Linked DNA regions of Homo sapiens. The protein of the gene in region 1 purifies or fractionates together with the protein of each later gene. This does not show direct contact. Each region holds a gene or a part of one and is shown on either strand. Other genes may lie near its edges.

Region 1 (4,085 bases):
AAAAACACACACACGCACCTGAAATAGATGAGACAGAAAAAAAAAAGAAGAAAGCAAAAAGAAAGCCAGGCGAGGTCCCATCTGCTGCCCCTCCTCTGGGGGGACAAGGAACCCACGACCACCTCCCACCTTGCCTTCTTCAGAGGGCCCAGGACTGGGCTCAGCCCCGCTTCACCCTCCTTTGATTCCCCACATTCAACAGGAAGACTAAGTCCACAGCCGTCACTCACCGGACAGATGGTGCTGACAGTTCAGCACCGCTCAAACTCTGTAAGGAGACGTGACAACAGAATCTGTCATGGGATCCTGGAATAGAAAAGGGCAGTGAGGAGAAAACTCTGCAAATCTGACTCAAGCGCGGACTTTGGTTAATGTCAACAATGGTTATGTGATCGTGGAATTGGCTCATTAATTGTAACAAATAGGCCGGGCGCGGTGGCTCACGCCTGTAATCCCAGCACTTTGGGAGGCCGAGGCGGGCGGATCATGAGGTCAAGAGATCGAGACCATCCTGGCCAACATGGTGAAACCCCGTTTCTACTAAAACTACAAAAATTAGCCAAGCATGGTGGCGCACACCTGTAGTCCCAGCTACTCGGGAAGCTGAGGCAGGAGAATCGCTTGAACCCGGGAGGGGGAGGTCAGTGAGCCGAGATCGCGCCACTGCACTCCAGCCTGGCAACAGAGCGAGACTCCGTCTCAAAAAATAAAAATAAAAATAAAAATAAAAGAAAATAAATAAAGTAACAAATATACGACATCAGTTTAAGATCTTAATAACAGGGGAAACTGGGGGAACTCTATCTATTTTTTCAATTTTTCTAAATCTAAAACTGCTCTTTTTTAAATTTTCGAGACGGAGTCTCCCTCTTGTTGCCCAGGCTGGAGCAGTGGTGCGATCTCGGCTCACTGCAACCTCCACCTCCCGGGTTCAAGCAGTTCTCCTGTCTCAGCCTCCTGAGTAGGATTACAGACGCCCGCCACCACATCCGGCTAATTTTTGTATTTTTAGTAGAGACGAAGTTTCACCATGTTGGCCAGGCTGGTCTCGAACTCCTGACCTCAGGTGATTCGCCCGCCTAGCCTCTCAAAGTGCTGGGATTATAGGAGTGAGCCACCCCGCCCGGCCTAAAACTGCTTTTTTTTTAAAAAGCCTATTAAAAAAGAAAAAGTTGCGGAAGCCGGCTGCCTTTGGAAGCCCTTGGAGTATGCTGTTCAGGTGGTCTCTGCGCACAGGCCCTACCCAGGCCTCAGCTTGGCCTCCTGGACTTCCCAGCCTCCCCTCCACCTTTGCAATTCACCAGACTGGGGGCCAAAGCGGCTTCAAACGACCCTGGAGGGTGGTGCTTTCAAGGTCTTGGGACCACGGACTTGTCTGAAAATCCGAAGGCGTTGGATCTTCTCTTCCCCAGAAAAATGCACCCGCTTTCAGAGGTTCGTGTCCCACGCTTTTCTTTCTATCCCAACCTTGTAAGAAGCCGCCGCCGTGAGCGGAGCAGCACCTTCCTCCGCGGGTCGCGGGAGTCACCTACGGGAAGGGACTCTCCGTCTGGCACAGGCCCTGTCTGGCCTGGGGCGCGCATGCTCCGCCGCCGAATCTTCCAGAAAGCCGTGGACCCGAGGCCCCGGCAGACGCAGGCGGCCCAGCGCCTTGCTTTTGGCCCCTCGCCTCGCCCTGGAGCCCTCTCTCGCAAGGTAAGGGACTGCCGGGAACGCAGATCGCAAGCCGTCGGGGCTCTGTAGAACTCAGAGGCGCTCGGCGGAAAGCTCGCCAGGCGACCCAGACCCGAACCCGCGGGCTCCCCAAGACAACAGCGCCGGGCGGCCGGATGCACGTGCGTCCCGGGAAGGCGGGTTCAGCTGGCATCGCCTGGCCGGTTCCGTTCGCTCCTTAAACCACAAGACCCCCTTGGGGTCACGACGTTCCCGGGGCACCCCTGCACTCGCGCGCCAGCACTCCCGGAGGGGCCTGGGGAAGGCCACGCGCACGGAGAGCGGGAAACTCCTCTAGGTTTCCAGGTGGGAGATCCAGACCCTACTGAGACCCGGAAACCGCCGGCCACTCCGCCTCCGGAAGCGACACTTTGGGACAAAGCTGGGGACAAGTAAGCCCAGAAGATCCTCGGGAAGCCGAGAATTTCGCGCTCCGCTCTCCCACCCACGCTCCGCCTCCCGCTTGCATCCTACAGCTCAGCTGCGGTCTCGCCTGGGGCTCAGGGAAGTGAGGTCCCAGGAAAACCTCCATCCCCCGAACGCAACCTGGGCAGAGCCCCGCGTCCCTCCCCCAGCGGGCACCCACCTCGCGTGCCGCCCGCGCAACGACAGCGTTTACCGCCACCCCACACGGTCCGCCAAAAAGGGCGATTTGCAAACAGCCATTTCCCATCCACAATGCAGCGAACTCAATGCTGGGCACCGAAACGTGCATCTCCCCCGGATTCCCACCCCGCGTCCCTGCTCCACGCTCCAGGACTCGCCGCCAGTGGGGTCCACTCCGCCGGCGCGGGGGCTGGGGTGGGAGCCCGGGGCCACGTGCACGGCCAGCCCCCATCTTCTGGGCGGTCAAGACCGCAGGCGTGGGCGCCGGTGGGGCGGGGGTCTTGGGAGACCCTGTCTCGCCGCCTTTCGGTGCAGATGATGCAACTCTGGGCGGAGGCGCGGAGAGGGAAACCGGGACCCAGTTGAGATCCTCTGTCCAGAGAGGGGAGCGAGTCTCGGTGGGGCCGGATCTCACCTGGACGGATACATGGAAAAGAGGGGCGAGCGGCTGCCCCGACTGCGGCGAGGCGGAGACGGCGACCCCGGGGTGGCGGCCTCGCGGGGACCCACGGCGAGGGGAGCAGGCGGGCGGTGATTGGCGGAGAGGCGGGGGCGGAGGCCGGCGCCGGCCAATGTCTCGTGGCAGAGCACCCGCCCCCCCAGCCCCTCCTCCACCCCACCCAGCCCGGGCCCCTCCCCCCCACCCCTTCCCCACCCCGCCGCAGCCTGGGACCCTCCGGCCTGCCCGACCCCCGCCCTCCCCGGGACCCCGGCATGCCCCCACCCCAGTCCGCCCGCCCCATTCCCACGCCCTGTTGATTCAACCGCAGACCCGGGTCGCCGCCCCCTCCCCCGCCTTCCTCTTCGCCTGAGCCCGCCCGCCCCGGGTTCCAGCCACCCCCACCCGCGGACCCCGGTGGTGTCTTCTACCTGGTGTTCCGATGCTGTTTTACTTGGTTAACTTCTTGCCCTTCGGGAATTTAAGGAACCTTTACTGATGAGCTTGAAACGTGCGTCCTGGTGGGTGGGGGGCCCTGCGCGTCCTCGAGGACCGACCCCGAGGGCGTGTGTCGCGGGCCCGGGAGGGGGCGCCGCGCCGGGGCGGGACTCGATGGCCGCGCTCTGTGGCCGCCGGACGCCGTGCGCAGCGCCCCGCGTGACCGCGCCCAGAGCCGGGTCCGAACCCCGAGCCGAGGCGCAGAACAGTCGCCTTGCGCGGCTCCGGTGCGGCCCACGGCCAGGGGCTGCCGGGCGCTCTCGGGGACGGGGCCGACTCCGCGCAGGGTGGTAGCAGGGGCGCCCCGCGGGGCTCCTTCGCCAGGTCCCGGAGGCCGCGGGCGGGGCCGTTTCCCAAACATCGTGCTCTGGACTTTCAGAGGCTGAACCTGATCCCCCCGCCCTATGGCTAAATGGGGGATCCCAGGCCCCCGAGTCTCCCCCCGGACCTGCAGCGAAAGACACGGACGGTGCCCATCAGCTCTGGGCAGAGGAACGTGCTGCGCCTCCGCAGCGTCCCCGGCTCAGGTCAGAGCGATGCTCCGCAGCCTCCTCCGGCCCGCGCAGCTCCGCCGCGGTCTCTGCCACGTGGGGCTCACAGTAGGGGAGGGAGTGAGACGTGAATTAGAATTAAATGTCCACTGGCAGGAACTGACACGAAGAACAATAAAGCCGGCGATGTGGGGAGGGGACAGGGATGGAGTTACATCATGAAGGCTCTGGAAGGTGGCATTGGAGGCCGGGATCGCGCCACTGTCCTCCAGCCTGTGCGACTGAGCGAGACTGTCTCCAGAAAAAAAAAAAAAAAAAAAAAAAAAAAAAAAAATCCT
Region 2 (3,500 bases), on another chromosome or scaffold:
CTGAGATCATGCCACTGCACTCCAGCTGGGATGACAGAGCAAGACTCTGTCTCAAATAAATAAATATATACATACATACATACATACATTGCCATTGAGAGAGTCTGAGGAAGCAGAAAACAAAACAGATTCCTGCATAAGATTTTGTTTTTTCACCTGTACTGGCACGTCCTCAGAATGCCTATACCACAGCCCTCTTTCTAAAAAGTTCCTTCTATACCAATTGCTGGTGGGCTCTGTGTAGCCTTGCCATCCTGGCATGAATAGCTGGGACCTGGAGCCAGCCTTCCAACAGACAACCAATTTACAGTCTGGCCAGTGGCACAGGGAGTTCGCCAAGCACAAATGTCATGTCCAATAGGCTGCCTCAGCCTCGTTCTGTGATACCTTGAACTTGACTTAGGGAGAAGGCAGAAAACAGATGGAAACAAAAAAGAACCAAGAGAAAAAGAAAAGCAGAATAATGGGCCGGGCATGGTGGCTCACGCCTGTAATCCTAGCACACTGGGAGGCCAAGGCAGGAAGACTGCTTGAGGTCAGGAGTTCAGGAGACTCCCGTCTCTATAAAAGATAAAAAAAAAATCAGAGCGGGAGTGGTGGCTCACGCCTGTACTCCCAGCACTTTGGGAGGCCGAGGCAGGTGGATCATCTGAGGTCAGGAGTTTGAGACCAGCCTAGCCAACATGGTGAAATGCCATCTCTACTAAAAATACAAAAATCAGCCAGGTATGGTGGCACGCACCTGTAATCCCAGCTACTCAGGAGGCTGAGGCAGGAGAATTGCTTGAACCTGGTAGGCGGAGGTTGCAGTGAGCCGAGACGGTGCCACTGCATTCCAGCCTGGGTGACAGAGCAAGAGTCCGTCTCAAAAAAAAAAAAAAAATTAGCCAGGTGTAGTGGTGTCTTCTTGTAGTGGGAGGCTGAGATGGGAGGATTGCCTGAGTCCAGGAGGTTGAAGATGCAGTGAACTATGACTGCATCACTGTACCCCAGCTTGAGTAACAAAGAGAGATCCTGTCTCAAAAAAAAAAAAAAAGAAAGAAAGAAAAGAAAAAGAAAGGAAAGCAGAAATAGGGAAAATCAGCTAAGCCAGAATCATGGGTTCTATGCATGCCTACTGAAGGGAACAAAGAGTCTGATCTGACCACGCACTCAGATCCCCTCAATTTCCTTATTTCCTTCAAATCTTCACAATAAACCCCCCAATTTAATGTAGAAGAAAGTTTTTTTTCTTCTCTTCATTCACTGACAGAAATTGAGCCAACAAGAAAAATAATATCTACTATTGATGAAGGTGCAGAAACACATATTCTTCTCATTCACTGGTAAGCATGTAAACTGGCATTCTTTGCTAACACTATACAACAGATGTCCTTCATGGTGCCTGTCCAAACTGCTACAGTTCTCGGTGGCCTGTGGCCTCCTTGGCTACAGCAGCGACGCAAAAGCCAATCCCCTGGTAGGCTGATGACCAAAAGTCTTGTGAGAAAGGAGACACTGGGGCAATTAGATTCACCTCTCAGAAATGTGTAATCAGGACACAGAGAGACTGAACTGGAAAGGTGTTAAGAGCTAAGCTAGGGACTGAGGTTGCCATTTGAGGCCATGTACAAAGTGAGCAGGCAGAGGAGGCTTGTCTATAGTGAAGTGGAGGAAGCAGAAGAGTGGAACAGGGCAGAAATCTGAAGCTCCTAAGAGAAAATAATAAACAACTTCCTTAATTCTGGGCCACCACCATTTTCTTGAGAGACAGCCACATTTCATTGGCCTGGGGAGCGCTGTATCATTACAATAAATCCTTCTTCACTCGAGCTAGTGTCTGTTCCTTGGAACCAAAAGGGCCTAATCTAGAATAGAAATTGGCAATAAAAACAAAGTTGAAATGTGGAGGGTTGGTGAGCACATGGCTATACATGGACTAGTAGGATGATGTTAGGTAAAGGTAATCCTTGGAAAGTTATGTACTATGTGTACAAATTACAAGCAAACTGTTACATTGCTTACCCAACCCAGTCTTTTCAAGAGTCCACATAAAAGACAAGATGAACAGATTTGTGTCTCTACCAGCAAGATCACCAGACCGGCAATAGACTCCTGACAAGTGCAGTCAAAATAGGTTAAAACAACAGGTGAGCTGGATACAATGGATCACACCTGTAACCCCAGCACTTTGGGAGGCTGAGGCAGAAGGATCACTTGAAGCCAGGATTCAAGACCAGCCTAGGCAATGTAGGGAGACCCTGTCTCTACAAAACATTTAAAATTTAGCCAGGCATGATGGCATGTGCTTGTAGTCCCAACTACTTGGGAGACTGAGGAAAGAGGATCACTTGAGCCCGGGAGGTCCAGGCTGCAGTGAGCCATGATCGAACCACTACACTCCAGCCTGGGCAACAGAGCAAGACCCTGAGGGAAAAAACAAAACAAACAAAACAAAACAAGTAAAAGAGTCACCTAGAGGTACACTCTTAACCGGTTAGTAATCCAGTCATAACATACAAGAATGGTCAGCAGTGGCCATATTGGGCATTATACAAAAATGAGTAAGTGAAGTAGGCTGTAGAGATGGAAGACTGGATATTCAAAAAGAAACAGAAAATAAGGAAACCAGGCAGCCTTTAAGTGACAAACAGAACACTGCCTCTGGCTTAGAAATTCTGGTTCCCTGAAACTTGACTATGCTTTCTTCCTTTGTCTTTGGATGTCTGGAAACTGCAACCTATTTTTTACTTGAGTGAGTTTTTGTTCTTTTTAGTCCAAGGTAAAGACTGGAACCAGACCGGGTGCAGTGGTTCATGCCTGTAATCTCAACACTTTGGGAGGCCAAGGCAGGTGGATCACCTGAGGCCAGGAGTTCCGAGACCAGCCTGGCCAGCATGGCGAAACCCTGTCTCTACTAAAAATACAAAAATCAGCAGGGTGTGAAGGCATGGGCCTGTAATCCCAGCTACTCCAGAGGCTGAGGCAGAAGAATCACTTGAACCCAGGAGTTGGAGGACGCAATGAACTGAGACTGTGCCACTGCACTCCAGCCTGGGCAACACAGCAAGACTCTGTCTCAAAAAAAAAAAAAAAAAAATAAAGACTGGAACCAACAGTAAATAGTGAAAGTATAAAAATAAAAGCGTGTGATGGGGTGGAGGAAATAACATACTTTCAATCCAACAATTCTATATAATGATAAGTTTGCACAAAAATGTAAGTATTAGCACATACAAAGTTTATTTATAAATAGAGAAAAGTTACTATCAGCCTCAATATTCAAAGGTCTGTTAACTAAACCACAATGCATTCATACAGGCAATATTGTGCAGCTATTAGAAGCCACAGAGAAGTACAGGTATCCCTTTCTACCTGAACTCAAGCTCCCTGACTCAGAAACCAAGTAGATTCAGATAGCAAGGGATACCTGTATTCAATGACATGGAAAGATGTTCATGATATATTAAGTGAAAAAAAGGGTTACAAAACAACATATACTTTATTTTTATTAAAAGTAG
Region 3 (3,500 bases), on another chromosome or scaffold:
GCCAACTAAGTTTGAGAATAAAATTTCTAGAGTTAGCCTGGATATGGACCTCTTTTATGCAATGTCCAACCAATTAAATACTTGCTCAATTTTCCTTCTTAAGGACTGAACTCATGGGTGTTGGGTGTTGTAAATTCACAGAGGGACTCTGCATTGATGTGAAAAGAAAACGGGAGACGTGCACTTAAGGGATTCCTTCAAGAAAGGGCACTCCCCACCCTTTTTCTGCCTAAGGGAATTTGGTGATGTTTTATTGAGCTGAAATGAGGCAATCTGTCTGCATCATGGGTAGGATTGAGAATGAGGATGTTAACTGTGACTGTGACAGAACATGAGGCAACCAGAAAAAAATATATGGTTTAGGCAGAGATGAGACTTTGACACTTCTACAAAAGAAACAAACAAAAACTTCAATTTGGTAAGTCATAGTGCTAAAAATAGTAATAACTATTACCTGAGACAATTTCTCTTCCCCACAATTTCTCTTCCCCACACATTCTTTCATGTATTTATTTCTCAACTTTACTAAACACATCAAGTCCTCACCCTCCAAAATGACTACAGGAACTGTAAACTAGGTATTATCAATTGTCTGAAACTACTCAGAAAGGTTTCATTTCACTCAAATATGACTGATTTATTTCAAAAATTTAATTTTATTGTGGTAAGAACCCTTAAAATGAGATCCACTCTCTTAACAGATTTTTAAGAGTACAATGTAGTATTGTTAATTATGGGCACAATGTTGTACAGCAGATCTCTAGAACTTATTCATCTTGTATAACTGAAATTTTATACCCACTGTGCACCAACTTCCCTCTCCCCCCTCCCCAACATGACCGATTTTTAACACACATTTGTATCAAGGTAACAAATGTTTGTAAGAGATTTTTTTCCCCATTAAATACTTTATGGTCATGAACTGATAAGATGGGCTTGGTTTGCTTGGCAGGAATCCATTATGAAGCCTTATCTAGTCATGAAGCCTGCAGAGACTAACCATTCTAGCCTCTGCAACATACTTTTCAGTAGCTATATCACACTAATTTATATTCATAGAGCAGCTTTACCTCCAAGGCACTTTTACACTTATCTAATTTGTCCATGCAACATTCCTGTGAGACAGACCAGGACAGTTATTATGAATTCAGTTTAACAGATGGAGAAGCCAAGGTACAGAATGTTCAAAAGATATGACAAATATCATAAAATCACTGACCCAGCCAAGGCCAGAAGTTGAATTTCCTGATTTCTAGTATGCCGCTCTAGTCAACTGATATTCTGCCTTTGACCTCATTAACATCACTTATCATCCCTAAGCGACCACATGGTAATTGTTGGTAAGCATCAGACACCAGACTTCCAGGCAGATTATTAACAGGAGAAGTCATAGCAATGAGTATCGCAAAGTCACAGCATTTTTAAAATTCTGACAATAACATAAACCTTGCTATTCAATAACTATCTCCCACTGTAAATTCTTTGTCACCATATTGATGTTTACTCAGAATCAGCACCTAATTCTGCAAGAGTCACAAAAGGAGAAAGGCTCTTGATGAGTGATTAAAAATTTTTACGTGGGGTGTAAGAGGGTATTTTCTAGCCCTACTTTTTGTTAACTTGTTTCTTATTAATAACATGATGCCATTTTGTATAAGCTAGTACATATCATTCTCTTAAGTTTGAGATAGGCAGTTTATTATTATTATTTTTAAAACTTTAGGGTACCATAATTTTGTTATGACTAATAAGGAATGCCTTTGTTTACTAATTCCTGCCAGAAAAGAAAGGCTACAGATCACCTATTCTGTAATCGAATATATTACTTTTGGTAAGTGGTCCATCATTTTCAACTGACTTATAAAATAACAATCCTATTCAACGAGTTCCTTCATCTAATTTTCTCAGTGTATGTTTGGCAAGTAGTTTATCAGCAAAGATAAACCAGGAATCACACTGCTCAAAGCCAGACAAAGTTTGATGAGTGCCCTGTGTTTTTCCGCCAGGTGGGCAACTGGTTATACACGCATGAAAAATCTTCCAGGCTCAATTTACTGTGACCATAACACAGAGCATGGTAGAGCTTTGGGGTTTCATGCTACTCTCTGGCTGCACATTAAAACAGATTCAAAGCCATTTACTAGGGTGAGTTTTTTACTAGGGCACATCTTTAGCTCATCCATAAGGCTGGAGGACTCTTGAGGCTAGTATTCTTATTTGGCTTCTCAGTTTTCAAAGAAGTCAATCCAACTTCAAACTGCATTCTGTTAAAGCATAAGTGTTGGTATGTACCTGGAACAAAATGAAAAGCTCTGCTCCTGGAACATGTCTATCAATGCTATCAAATATTTGACAAAGTTCATCTGAGAAGAAAAAAAGACATTTAAGAATAACTGACCAAGGAAAATACATTCCATTTGCCAGATTTTCTAAAATATGTATTGAGTTCAAGTCAGATCATCAGAAAACTGGGTTCTGTGAATCACAGCATATTGGGCCTGCTGCACCCCGCAGGATTATTCCTTTTATGAACGGTGCTTGTTGTGATACATGAACCTGTACTGGTAGTTGTTACAGGACACAGCTCTATGAAATTCACCCTTGCTCTTCCTGCAAGTTGTTGCTGGAGTGTTGTTAGATCTCATCCAGCGTCACTTTCACATGGTCTCATTCAGAAAAATTCCTCCCTGATTTCTGCAGCAAGAACTATTATGCTTTTCCTCAGCAGTAGTCTTATTTTTATCTTATTGTAAATTGCAAAACTACCTTTCATTTTTGGTAGACTACTAGAAGGCCTAAAGCCAGATTTACAGTCTAACCAGAGGCAAGTGGGCAGGTCATTATTTTAGTATCGTCCAGTCTCGACGTTAGCTTCATTTTTAACGAGCCTATCGATGAATTTCATTCTTTTTCCCCTTTTGTAATTTATAAGATTATCTTATATTTCACATACCTGTAAAAGTCTTTTTACAAACTTGCTGGAATATAGTTCACTATAAATACATAAATTAAAACTACAGTCCATTAAAAGGATGACTTTAAAATATTTCATTAGTTCCTTTCAAATAGCAAAAGGAATTTTAGACAGTAAAGAAATTCCCACTGCACCTTTAAAAAACAAGCTGAAAATGACCCTTGCTCCTCTCAGATCTCCTTTCTTAAACAAGCATGCTCAGGGCAACTACTGGCCTAACTTGATACTTCTTGGCTGTCCTGAAAGAGCATCTTTCTCCATCAATGCCCTTGAAATTATGCACAGATTAAACAATAAAATTAATCTTTCACATATAGCAAAGTGTTTTCTTCTCTGTGTCAGCAAAGACTAATTTAACAAATTCATTAACACAGGATTAACACTAAAGAAGTTCTTCTTGTTCCAGGTAGGATTGGGTTTCCATTTGTGAACAGGAATGACAGGCCTAGATAACTGCAGAGTGGAATTAAGTATTCAGCTATCTCTTCTAGTATTCGATGTCCTGTGAGCCCTTACTAAGTACATG
Region 4 (3,500 bases), on another chromosome or scaffold:
AGAGTAGATGATCTCAAATGTACAGCTTGGGTCTAATATTAAAGTTCTAATTTTAAATAATCTCATTGTCCAGAGAAGGATATCTTTCCACAGCATCTTTGACACATGGCTATCCAGATAATGATACACAATCTAAAGGCATCATTCCAAAAGTTACCACAGCTTTACCAATTCCCATTTTTTACATGCATTTTCATTCGGTTCAAAAGCAGATTCTGTTAAATTCAAGTCACAAATTGAATTAAAATGAATATATCCTAGGGAAAGGAAACACTGCACTTAAAAAGCCACATTGGGCCAGGCACAGTAGCTCGCGTGTTCGAGACCAGCTTGGGCAACATGGCAAAACCCCATCTCTACAAAATTAGCTGGGTGTGGTGGCGTATGCCTGGTAGTCCCAGCTACTTGTGGGGCTGAGATGGGAGGATCGCTTGAGCCCAGGAGGTCAAGGCTGCCGTGAGCTGAGATCATGCCCAGCCTGGGTGATAAAGTGAGACCCTGTGTCAAAAAAAAAAAAAAAGGGCAAGCCACGTCTTACATACATAATTTTTAAATGAAAAAATTTAACAACACCTTGGTTTAGGAAGGTCAGAAGGGCTGAATACCAGGGTATTCTTCATGCATCTTCCTTTCCCTTCCCCATCTTTCAGCCTAACTTACTAATCTGAAAATGAGAAACACTGTTTACGTGCAGGAAAGATGTCTTCTGCAAAAGTCACTAATAGGGGCTAACTTGGGGAAACCAGTGCACTGCTGCAAACCATCCTTTTTTCTAAGTAAGTGGGGCTCTGGCTAAAAAAACAACTGTCCCAAGGTTGAACTAGTATAAAAGAGAAAATAGTGGCCAACATATCCTCAAAACAGACCCTTCCATTTTGCCCTGTATCTAATTCACATTAAAGACAACTATTGCAGATGTATAAAATATATCAATAAATGTTGACTGATCATGGCAAGGAACCAAGCTAGACAAGGCAGATGGTTGGGTGGCTAATTGGGAATGGATGAGAAGAAAGGGTTCAAAGAGGTGCTACAAAAAGCCACAATAAATTAGCAAACTTCCAGTTTTTCTATTAGGCAATATCACCTCTAACCTTCATGTAAATAATAACTTAATTGGGAATGCACTGATTTTCAAACATGTTTTGGTGAACTTTTCATTCAACCTACCAGTAATGGTTGGGTTGTTGTTCGCTACAGCCAGGGATCCTGTGTGGTTTCGGATGAGATTGTCTTGAGTCGATGGAAGGCCTGGAGATGACCACGTTAGAGTACTGTATCCTGAAAGACTTTGCTGCTGGTGGTGCTGTTGTGATGGTAGAGGTGGAAGTGGCGATGGATGGCTGATAGCTGTATTTTGACCAGAGAATGAATTATCTTTAACTGGCCTAACAGTCGGAGCATTCTGTGAGGTAAACATTTGCCCATATGTATCACCAGCAGGCAGAGAGGGATATGAAACACTAGGATACGCGGCATTAGAAACAGTTGACATAGCATAATGACCACAAGTAGAGGGAAATCCCTGAGACGCAACAGAAGAGCTGGCAGAGTACATGGCTGGACTATTGTAGTGATTCACAAAAGAGGAGTATGGTTGGGAGGCACTCGTATGCAAATGGGATGCTGACGATGCAGCACCTTGGAAAGATCCTAGAGTGGATCCCACAATATGAGGGGCAGGAGGACCCCTGCTGTACAACTGCTGTGCTCCTGGTTGCTGGTTCACTGTGTTAGGAGTCACATTTTGTGTTGGTACTGTATAGAGAGCAGAGTAGTAATCACCACACTGGGTATCCAATGGCAATGAGGTCATTTTCCCAGGTCCTTGAGAGTAATGTCCTGAGGGAGCAATATAGTTTTGATGATGCAATCCATATCCAGATGGAACCTGCATTTGATTCTGGGCTGGACCTGAAAAAGCAAGTATTTACAGGTATTTGTAAAGAGATAACTAATTTTTAAAAATAGCCCCCATTTAAATATTGAAGCAATTAACTTTCTTTTCCATAATCCCAACTTATTACAAAAGGTATACACTGTTATAGACCCATTATGGTAGCCTGCCTCCAACATGGCCCCCAATGATCCCCACCTCCTGTTATTCACACCCTTGTAGTCCTCCCTCACAATGTACCAGGACTGGTCTGTATGAACAGTAGCATACGGCAAAGGTGATGATATGTCACTTCCATGTTAGCCCAGTCTTGAGCTCTGGCTCTCTTTCTCTCAGATACCCCAGTCTGAAAGAAGCTAACCTGCCAAGCCGTGAACAGCCCTATGAAGAAGCCCATGCAAGGAGGAACTTAACTCTCTGGCCAACAGCCAAAGAGAAACTAAGATCTGCCAACAACCACGACTGAGCTTTCAGGCAGATCCTCCAAACTCAGTAGAATCTTGAGATAACTATAGCCCAGCCAACAGGTTATCTCATGAGAGACCCTGAGCCAGAACCACCTAGCTAGGCTGCTCCCAAGTTTATCTTCCTGAGAAACTGTGAAATAAATAGTTGTTGTTTTACAAGTTGTTAAGCTTAGGGGGTATTTTGTTATGCAGCTATCAGTAACTAATATACCCATCCTGGAAGAAGTTTAAACTTTGAGACAGGGTCTCGCTCTGACCCCAGGCTCTATAGAGTGTGATGGCTATAGAGCGCGATGGCATGATCATGGTTCACTACAGCCTTGTTCTCCTGGGCTCAAGCAATCTTCTCACCTCAGCCTCCCGAGCAGCTGGGACCACAGGCGTGCACCATGGTGACCAGCTAATTTTTACTTATTTATTTTTTACAGAGACAGGCTCTCACTGTGTTGCCCAGGCTGGTCTCCCATACACCACGGCCCAGCCAATGTTTCTAAATTTATTTTCTTGTAGAGACAGGGTCTCACTGTGTGCCCAGGCTGGTCTTAAACTCCTAGAGTCAAGTGACTCTCCTCCCTCAACCTCCCAAAATGCTGGGATTATAGGCATGAGCCACTGCACACAGCTAAAACTTTTTTCTCAGTTTTTATTTTTCCTAACTAGAAAAGTAACAATATACCCACTGTAGAAAAAATTCAAACAATAAAGAGTATGAATTAAAAATCTCTGCCTAGTAGCTTATATCCTATTTCCCAGATATAGTTACAGTTAATGCTTATGCATCCTCTGTATATCCATGTATCTATGTAATGCATATGTAAGCATGTATATAATTTACTTGATTTTTTAAACACACAAAAAGGATATTACAGTTCCGCAACTTGCTTTTACTTAATATATGCTGAATATCCTTAAGTATTAGCATATATAAATCCTCATTATTCTTTTAAAAATTTACATATAGTACTTTATTGTAGAGATATAACATTATTCACCAAATCTCCATTGATGAATATCTTGGGGTTGAACTAATCTATATTTATGAGGTCAACTTTTATGATGAAGCTATAAGACAAATTTCTAGAAGTCAAACTGGAAGTTCAAAAGGTTTATGTTTTTAAAATTGACATTATTGGCAA
Region 5 (3,500 bases), on another chromosome or scaffold:
ACTCCCTGACTACCACCTCCCATCTTTCCAGCTTATTTCCTCTAGTTCCTGGGCACCAAATATCTTTCAAGCTAATATAATGGACAATCCATTCATCCTACCAACTTTATTCCTCATTCCTCCTCACTAGCTTCAAAATCAATAATCAAAATTATTCTCATGTACACACTCAATTTCCTTGTTCCCTCTCTTATTTCACCTTAGCCACTAGGCTAAATTATAAATTTGGTTAAATCCAGTGCTCTGCCTGCTCTATGCCTTGACTATGTGGCTGACAGAACTACAGAAATAGATGCACACCACAGTGACTAGTCTAAACTTGTAACAGTAACCCTCAGCACTGCCCAGCACCCATCCAACACTGTCCTGGTGCATTTCCTCTAGTTCTAGAGGACTATTTCATATCTTCCGCTCTCTCCTCAAACATCTATCTAACAGCTCTTCCCACATAGCTACTGCCCACGCTTCTGTTTTCTCCAGTACAAAAGAAGGAACCAGAGGAGAATTCCCAGAAGCTCCCACTCAACACCTTCCCTGCTGTTACCACAGATGAATTATCCATACTCCCATCAAGATCAACCTCCAGAATGCCCCTCTAGAGAGCAGAGATCTTTACTTTGTTCCATGAAATATTACAGCCTCCCAAAATGGTGCTTGGTGAAGAGTAAGTGCTGAATACTTGTTGAATGAAGGAGTGAATTAACAAATAAATGTATTCTTTCACTATGTACTATATCTCTTTTCCACTTATTGAGGCCACCCCCCAGCCAATTATTCTTCTCCCTGCAATTTCACAAAAATTTCCCTCCGTACTCTAACACTCCCAGAGAGCTTACAAATACAGTTATATATACCATCTTAAGAAATGTATCCTGGCCAAGCACAGTGGCTCATGCTTGTAATCCCAACACTTTGGGAAGCTGAGGCAGGAGGATCGCTTGAGCTCAGGAGTTCAACACCAGTCTGGGTATATTGTGAGATCTCTGCTCTACAGGGCCAAAAAGAGAGAGAAAGAGAGAGATCTCACCTCTAGTAAAAATAAAAATCAGCCAGGTGTGGTGGTGCATGTTTGTAGTACCAACTACTTAGGAGGCTGAGGCAGAAGGATCACCTGAGCCCAGGAGTTTGAGGCTGCAGTGAGACATGACAGCGCCACTGCACTCTAGCCTGAGCAATAAAGCAAGACCTTATCTCCAAAAAATAAAATAACATAAAAAGACAAGTGTCCCTTCCCCAACTTCCCCTTCAACCACTGCCCCATTTCTTTGTTTTCGTTTACAGCAAATCTCAAAAGAACTGTCTATCTTCCTTCTCCCATTTTAATTTCTATTTAAATGACATCTTTACCACCACCACTAAACAGAAATTGCCCATGTTATTAAGGTCGTCCACATTACTAAATCTACAGAACTCATTACTTGACTCATCAGCTGCAAATCACATAGCTACTCACTCCTTTCTTCTTAAAACACTTCCCTTTCCTCCCAGGACATCACACTCACCCTGTTTTCCTCCTACCTCCTAGCAGCTCCTTTCAGTCTCCTTTGCTGATTCCTCCTCATTACCCAATTATTTCTTCATCATTACCCATTAAAGGAATGATTCCAGGATTCAGTCCTCCAGTTTCTTTCCTTCTCTATGTAAACTCCTGAAATAATCTAATCCAATTCATGACCTTAAATACTATCTATATCCTAAATTCATTATCTCTAGACTGGACCACTCATTGGCTTATTTATCAACCTGCCTACTCAGTATTTCTACTTAAGTGTCTAGTAGACATCTAAATACCAGTTACAGATGAACTCTCATGCCCCCTACCCAGTGACTTGGCTGCTCAGGTCACGAACAGTGGAAGGCATCCTTAACTCTTCTGTCTCTTACAAAAACACATCCAGCTACATCAGTAAATGTTACTACCTTAAAAATAGATCCAAAATCTGTCCACTTCTTACCACCTCCATTGCTGATCCAAAACCATTTCTCATGATTATTACAAAAACTTAAACACCTTTACCTCCCTTACAACCATTCTAAAAACAGCAGCCAGAGGAATACTAATAAGTCATGTCATCTCACTACTCTGCCCTTCACCCTCTATACTCCTTACACTCAGAGTAAGAAACAGCCCCTATAAGGGCCTACAAGGCCAGACACACTGTGGCCTTCCATGACTTTTCTGGACTCTATCCCCAACTACTTTTCCCCTCACCACTCCGTTCTATTCACACAAGTATGCTCTTGCTTTTGGTCTCTACATTTGTTTTCTTTACCCCTAATGCTCTTCCTCCACATTTCTGCACAGCTTCCTCCCTTACTGTAATCTTTAGTGTTTACTCAAATGTCACCCTATCAGTGAGCCCTCCCCTAAACACCCTTACTTTAAATTTCAACTCTTCCATGCACAGTTCTTATCCTCTTCCTAGCTCCTTTCTCCACAGAATATACCTTTTAATATACCATGTAATATATCCACCTATTTTGATCGCTGCATACTAACATGCTGCTCCACACTGGCATGTTAGTGTGCAATTAGAATACACGCTTTCTAAGACAGGGATTGCCTTATTCACTGCCATATCCCCAACACCAAAAGCAGTTTGGCACAGAGTTGGTACTTAATAAACATCTGATGAATTAATTAATGAACTGTTAAGACTCACTAGACATTTGACAAAAACCCCAAGTATAAAAGCAAAAAACCAAGACACACAAAAAACTGACTTCATAAAAAAACAGAGACAAATGAGGGAACAGAAAGAAACAAAAAAAGTCCTATTATCAAAATCTTCAGAAAAACTTAAAAAAAATGCATCAAGAACATGAAAGACTCTGGAACTTAAAAACATTACTACTGGAAAAAAACAATTCATTAGAAAGATTAGAAGATAAAGTAAAAATCACCAAGAACAGAGGGGAGCGAAAAAAACCAAAAAGGTTTTTTAAAATATGAAGGGAAAAAGACAAAGTTTTATGCCAGAAGCGCCAAAAAGTGACCATCAGAAATTTGTGGGGTTGGCTGGGACCTAGTAGGAAAATAAAGGCAGAAATTTCAAAGAACTATTACATGAAATTTTATTAGAGCTTAAAGGAGAATCAGAAAAGTCTTCAATCTGAAAGAGTCAATTTCAATTAAAAACATGGTAGAAGTGAGTCATAAAGCTTAAAATAAAGAAAACTCATAGTGTCAATCACTTTCAATTTTATATCAGGAAATAAACTGTACTTTAAACAAACTATTTTTTTTAATACATTTATGCACTGACTTTCAGTGACAGGCACAAATATTTTATTTCCAGATCAATAATGACAATAAAAAGAAACCAAATAACATAGCCCTAATATTATAATCCCAATTATGTTTAGTGATGGTTTTACATAAAAATTTCCGTTAAAAAATTATACATGAGATTCTCGATAAATAACAAAGGAAAAAAATTAAATTCTGTCTTTTTAAAGCAAAAAGATATTTTTACTTTTCATAAAAAGAATATATATAA
Region 6 (3,500 bases), on another chromosome or scaffold:
ATGAGAAGGTGATCAGTATGGTCAGACACTTCAAATTTAATATTTGTGACAGCTAATAAAAATCCAAAAGACCTGGGTTATTTTCTTGACCTGTTCTTTGCCTGTGGTATTACCCCGAAGCTGGGATGGGGGTATTTGGGAGTGGGATGGACTAGCAGTCATGGAATGGAAAGATGATGGGGCATTTTACTTGTGATAAATATTTGTCATTCTTTAGGTTTTCTTTGTCACCTACTTCCATAAGAGTGTTTTATAATCACTGGTTTTTATACTCTGATGTTAGGCCATGAGACAGGCTGTTAACATTTTGACAAGAGATAACAACTTGACATTGACAGATCAAAGTCTTCAGCTTCTCAGATCCTTGGATTGTGCCCCAAGATGGTATTGGAGTGCTGCTGATGTGGCTGTGTTGCTTTAGTTCAGCCTGTTTATTCTTTGTTGTCCTAAGATTGCAAATGTTCAGTAGGTGATTGAGGGATTCAGTAGGTGATAGTGCCTGTGAGGTATGCCACCCTGGAGAGGGCTCTGTGATTTTGTGTTGAAATCGGAATTTGTTGTCATTGACATCTTTTTCTTTTAGGTGATGAAATTTATTGAGAAGGCCCAGAACATGTCCAAGTAAGTGATGTCAGTAACACCCATTTATTACTCTGTAGCTGACATATTTCTAGGCTTCATGGAGGATCTGGGATACCATCAGCCTCTGAAAGAATATAGATTGAGATGAAACCATTAGGAGTGAAAAAAAAATTGGCAAATCATTAAGATGCTTTAGAATATAGAGCTAAATTTAATATCATTTCATCCTCAATTACTTTGATCCCCAATTTACATGGCTTCTTAGGAGCTCTTTTGAGACTTTGTCCCAATTCAGTTGTCCACCTGCCTTCTCTTGGGAAACCATGCTTGTTGTCATTAAAGTATCTGAAATACCTTTCTAATTCTTATTTAAATGAATATAGTCTACATGGTTCAGAGAAAATTTTTTAATTTACAGAGTGTCAGAATAGGAAATATTTGTTCTTATGGCCATTACCCAGTTAGCTGTTGTTCAAGGTTTACTTTTTTTAAAAAAGATAATTTATTGTTTTATAAAAATTCAAACCATGCATGATATTTATAAGATGAAACCATCACCCCGATTCCCACTAGAAGTAACATCATCATTCAGCGACTAGCATTCCACATTTCTATATACACAGATAGAAGGATGAATGGATAAAAGTGCTTTTACAAAAATGGGGTACTAGAGGTAGCTTTTGTTTTGTTTTGAGACAGGGTCTTGCTCTGTCGCCCAGGCTGGAGTACAGTGTAGTGATCTCAGCTCACTGTAACTTCCACCTCCCTGGCTCAGGTGATCCTCCCACCTCAGCCTCCCAAGTAGCTGGGACTACAGGTGTGAGCCACCACACCTGGCTAATTTTTGTATTTTTGTATTTTTGGGATGGAGTCTCGCTCTATTGCCTAGGCTGGAGTGCAGTGGTGTGATCTTGGCTCACTGCAATCTTTGCATCCCGGGTTCAAGCGATTCTCCTGCCTCAGCCTCCTGAGTAGCTGGGATTACAGGTGGCCTGCTACCATGCCTGACTAATTTTTGTATTTTTAGTAGAGATGGGGTTTCACCATGTTGGCCAGACTGGTCTCAAACTCCTAACCTCAAGTGATCTGCCCGGCTTAACCTCCCAAAGTGCTGGAACTATAGGTGTGAGCCACTGAGCCTGGCCTGGAGGTATTTTTTTTTTTTTAATGACAGCTTTATTAAGATATAATTCATATACCATAAAGTTCACTCGTTTAAAGTGTATGGTTGTTTTAGTCTGTCCACAGAGTCGTGTGTTGATAATTACTATCTTCAGAATATTTTTGTCATCCTGAAAAGAAACCCCATACTCATTACCAATCACTCCTTATTTTCTGTTCCCTTTAGCCCCTAGTGACTACCCCATTTTCCATTCCCATTGGCAATATGATTTCTCCACAACCAGTTCCTCCATAACCTTGCCAACTTTTGTTATTCTTCTTGTTTTTGATTATAGCCATTCTAGTGGATATAGAGTGGTATCTCATTGTGGTTTTTACTTTTATTTTCTTAATAACTAATGATATTGAACATCTTTTTAATGTACTTATTGGCCATTGGTATGTATATATTTAGAGAAATGTCTATTAGAATTCTTTGCCAATTAAAAAAATTCTGATATAATTCATAATTATATCAAATTAATTCACAAAAAAGTTGATATAGTTCATAAAAACAGCTTTATTGAGATAATTCACATACCATACAATTCACCCATTTAAGGTATACAATTCAGTGGCTTTTAGTATATTCACAGAATTGTACAACTATCACCACAGTCAATTTTAGAATATTTTCATCATCTCAAGAAGTAACCTGATATTCTTCAGCTAGCACTTTCCCATTCCTCCCATTCTTCTTCCTCTGTTCCACACTCACCCCCGCCCTAAGCAACCAGATGTTTCCCAAGAGATTTACATTCTGGTTTTGTGTCTTTCATTTTAAATGCATTGTGTTTCTATAAAAGTTTCCCCTGTGATCATTTGCAGCAACTCATGGTCTGCTGTTCCTGCCCATTGGCGTGAATATTGGTCATTGAACAAAGTCTAGGGGATCATCATGTGCAGTTTAGGGCCAGTAGGAGGAAGTTAGATTTGGCAGTGTGCAGAGGTTACTCCAGTCTTGGATAACCAGATGTTTATTGTCTTATATGATGGAATATCCTTCAGCATAACACAAATGTAACACTTCTTTAATGATCTTTCTTGACATAGATATGTGTTGATTGACACACCTGGACAGATTGAGGTATTCACCTGGTCAGCTTCTGGGACAATTATCACTGAAGCCCTTGTGAGTATTCTAGGACTTGCTACTGAGAGTAGCTAGAGGGGCTAGACTGGATGAGCATTTATTTTTAATTGCCTTGGACTTTATATGGGAGGAAGTTGTAGAAGCTCTGCACACCCTGCCTAAAGTGGTTTTCCCTTGTTAAGGATGGTGGAAAAAGAGTTTGAGGACAGATCGTGAGCCCTCTGACCAAGGCTTTGATTTTTTTGTGGCTTTAGGCATCCTCATTTCCAACAGTTGTCATCTATGTAATGGACACATCGAGAAGTACCAACCCAGTGACCTTCATGTCCAACATGCTCTATGCCTGCAGGTAATTGATTGTTGGTGGGGAAAGTGTTCCATCAAGGTATAAGGCCTTTTTCTCTTCTTCTTCCTCTTTTTTTTTTTTTTTTGAATCTGGTTGCTTACCCCTGGATTTGTGCTCATTCAGATTTGCTGTTCAGTTGAGTGGCTGTGAGCTGGGGAAGGTCAGAGGAGAAAAGAGGCACATGTGCTGTTGGCATTCTCTCTCAATACCCTCTGATCTTCCTCCCTTGTTGTTACAAAAAGGTGATGTATGAATATGAACTGTCTGATAGTTGTTCCCAGTTGGATAAAATCCAAGTTTAAAGATAAAGTCCTCTGG
Region 7 (2,542 bases), on another chromosome or scaffold:
AGATATTTAACAATAAGAATAGCAGGACATTAATCAGAATGGACTCTAACCCTGTCAAGATGGAGACCCTGATAAAATCTCATGGAGGGCTTCTTGTTAGTGAGCGGTGTCCTCCCAAATGTTGCTTCCTTCCCTGCTCTGTCAAAAAGAGATTCCAGCAGTAACTGTATTCTAGGATCTCTGATCTCTGACCTCTAAGCAAGGGCCACATGTTCTACCCTACTCAGCCTTAGAGGGGATTGGAGACTTTGTACTAGAAAAGCTGTTTTCAAGGCTCTTTGGGAAACAGAAAATGTGTCTCTGATGAAACTCCTCCATGCCCTTGATTGTTGGAGAACAGCCCTACTAGATACTGTCAAATCTTTTGTTTTCTGTTCTCTGTAGGATAAACCTTTAATGTCTTCATGTTGTGTACAAGATAAATCCAAACCCTAACTTGGTACCAGGCCCTTCAGTATCTAACCCAATCAATTCATCTAGTTTTTTCAAAGCATCAGAGGATATTGGTACAAGAAGCAGTCTAAGATCATACAGTCCAGCAGCTTATTTTACAGGCAAGGAAACAAAGATCCAGAAAGTTGAGCTGATTGACTCAAGTGTCACACAGGAACGTGTTCGCAGCTTCACTCTTGGATTTGCATCAGAAACAGTGAGGGGAGGTAAAAGGTGCTTGGATCTAGATTTGAGATCTGCTTCCACCAATTAGTTAACCTTTAAACTTCCATTTTTTAACACATAAAATGAGATTAATAATTAATGATTTTCGGCCTGGTGCAATGGCTGACGCCTGCAATTCCAGTACTTTGGGAGGCCGAGGTGGGCCACTTGAGGTCAGGAGTTCAAGACCAGCCTGGCCAACATGGTGAAACCCTGTCTCTCCTAAAAAAAAAAAAAATTATCCGAGTGTGGTGGTGTACACCTATAATCCCAGTTACTTGGGTGGCTAAGGCACGAGAATCGCTTGAACCCAAGTGATGGAGGTTGCAGTGAGCCGAGGTTGCAGCAAGCCAAGATCGCACCACTGCACTCCAGCCTGGGTGATGCAGCGAGACTCTGTCTCAAAAAAGAACCAAAACAACAACAAAAAATTAATGATTATCATTTATTGATTACCTGTCCCCCCAAGCATTCCTGATATATATATTACCTTTATTATATGCTACTATGACCATATGTTGTAATTACTGCAGGGTTAAGTCAACATCATAACCTAACTATTTTTAACTGTACTAAATGTATACGGTGTATTTCTGTGTCTTCATTTTTATAAACATTTATGGAATAACTTGTTTTGCAAGCATTGTGTGGAGAAATGTCAGGTCCCACCAAAGTTTAGGCCTATTTTCTGTCTTTGTATAGGAGTTTACAGTTAGACCAAAAGTCAGGCAGTCTCACCAAGTTAAAAAAAAAAAAAAGATGTCTAAATAATGACTTGAAATAATTCATGTAACGCAGATTTTTGTTAGTCTTTCCGGAAGATGCCTGCTAGTAAGTTTGGATGCACAAGAGGGCACACTCAGCATGTGAAATGGGTTTGTTTTTCACAGTAATGAAATGTGTATTACGTTAAGACTCTCTTGTTTAAAAAATTGTCTTAAAATAAATCTCTCCTGATTTATTTAGGGATTTTTGTTTAAAGTTGCTTGGCCCCCAGACACTCTGGTTTAGGCTATAACCCCGATGCCAGAGGATGAGTGGATTTAGGTCAGGGCTTGTCTGTTCTATCACCCTTCATTCTGTGTCTCCCAACTCTGCTGCTACTAGTGCAGCATTGCAATATGGGAGGAAGGAAGTGAAGCTAATGTGTATTAGCTTAGTCTCCCAGCCTCACAACACATGTAACTCTGTGACCTTAGAAAAGTTACTCATCCTCCCTAAATCTCAATTTCCTCAATTTTAAAATGTGGACAACACTCTACATAGCTCTTAGGTTTGTTGCGAGAACATGGGGAAAAAAATCCCTAAGCTAATGCCTTCGTTCATACTAAGTACCCAATAAACGTTAGCACCTACTATGAACTATTATCTTTTATTAGACATCTCTACTACATTCCAAGTGCTTAGAAGTGCTTTATACATGTTCCTTCAAATTAATGTCTGTGACAAACCTTTAAGACAGGTGTTATATCCAATTTTTATTCATTAAAAAAATGAATTAATGCACACAAACCACCTAGTAGAGTATCTGTCTCATGGTAAGCACACAGTAGATGCATCTATTATTATTTCAGATAAGGAAATAGGCACTGAGGATGAGTAACTTTTATAAGGCCACATAGGCAGTATGTGGAAGGGCTAAGATTCATACCCAAGTTTGTTGGTCTCTGAGACCTGAGTTCTTATTTCTACATGTACACACTCTTTTAAGGAATTACGAGTCTCCCAGGGCAGAACATTTTAAGATGGATGTTTGTATCTAAACAACACTTTAGTAAAGTGACAAAGGAAGATATCCATCACTCAGACCACAGCTGAGATTTTTTTTTCCCCATGGCTCTCATGTAAGAGAGGAGAAAGCAGCTTAGGTATTGATTTTGCTGGT

Evidence for each region.
Region 2: the proteins of CBS (region 1) and IREB2 fractionate together in Homo sapiens (co-fractionation; one large-scale study listed by BioGRID). This does not show direct contact.
Region 3: the proteins of CBS (region 1) and PDLIM5 fractionate together in Homo sapiens (co-fractionation; one large-scale study listed by BioGRID). This does not show direct contact.
Region 4: the proteins of CBS (region 1) and SEC24B fractionate together in Homo sapiens (co-fractionation; one large-scale study listed by BioGRID). This does not show direct contact.
Region 5: the proteins of CBS (region 1) and NMD3 fractionate together in Homo sapiens (co-fractionation; one large-scale study listed by BioGRID). This does not show direct contact.
Region 6: the proteins of CBS (region 1) and GPN1 fractionate together in Homo sapiens (co-fractionation; one large-scale study listed by BioGRID). This does not show direct contact.
Region 7: the proteins of CBS (region 1) and CTH fractionate together in Homo sapiens (co-fractionation; one large-scale study listed by BioGRID). This does not show direct contact.

What each region holds. Positions count from the first base shown.
Region 1 is NC_000021.9:43,073,036-43,077,120, forward strand, and holds the start of CBS (cystathionine beta-synthase), read right to left. Parts: upstream 2,801-4,085; 5' UTR 2,735-2,800; exon of another isoform or gene 1,468-2,734; intron 307-1,467; 5' UTR 231-306; intron 1-230. UniProt on the Homo sapiens protein: Hydro-lyase catalyzing the first step of the transsulfuration pathway, where the hydroxyl group of L-serine is displaced by L-homocysteine in a beta-replacement reaction to form L-cystathionine, the precursor of L-cysteine.
Region 2 is NC_000015.10:78,444,716-78,448,215, reverse strand, and holds part of IREB2 (iron-responsive element-binding protein 2), read right to left. Parts: intron 1-3,500. UniProt on the Homo sapiens protein: RNA-binding protein that binds to iron-responsive elements (IRES), which are stem-loop structures found in the 5'-UTR of ferritin, and delta aminolevulinic acid synthase mRNAs, and in the 3'-UTR of transferrin receptor mRNA.
Region 3 is NC_000004.12:94,650,942-94,654,441, reverse strand, and holds part of PDLIM5 (PDZ and LIM domain protein 5), read right to left. Parts: intron 1-3,500. UniProt on the Homo sapiens protein: May play an important role in the heart development by scaffolding PKC to the Z-disk region. May play a role in the regulation of cardiomyocyte expansion. Isoforms lacking the LIM domains may negatively modulate the scaffolding activity of isoform 1.
Region 4 is NC_000004.12:109,461,315-109,464,814, reverse strand, and holds part of SEC24B (protein transport protein Sec24B), read right to left. Parts: intron 1,915-3,500; coding exon 1,171-1,914; intron 1-1,170. UniProt on the Homo sapiens protein: Component of the coat protein complex II (COPII) which promotes the formation of transport vesicles from the endoplasmic reticulum (ER).
Region 5 is NC_000003.12:161,227,811-161,231,310, reverse strand, and holds part of NMD3 (60S ribosomal export protein NMD3), read right to left. Parts: intron 1-3,500. UniProt on the Homo sapiens protein: Acts as an adapter for the XPO1/CRM1-mediated export of the 60S ribosomal subunit.
Region 6 is NC_000002.12:27,632,050-27,635,549, forward strand, and holds part of GPN1 (GPN-loop GTPase 1), read left to right. Parts: intron 1-583; coding exon 584-621; intron 622-2,796; coding exon 2,797-2,875; intron 2,876-3,090; coding exon 3,091-3,185; intron 3,186-3,500. UniProt on the Homo sapiens protein: Small GTPase required for proper nuclear import of RNA polymerase II (RNAPII). May act at an RNAP assembly step prior to nuclear import.
Region 7 is NC_000001.11:70,435,268-70,437,809, forward strand, and holds part of CTH (cystathionine gamma-lyase), read left to right. Parts: intron 1-2,542. UniProt on the Homo sapiens protein: Catalyzes the last step in the trans-sulfuration pathway from L-methionine to L-cysteine in a pyridoxal-5'-phosphate (PLP)-dependent manner, which consists on cleaving the L,L-cystathionine molecule into L-cysteine, ammonia and 2-oxobutanoate.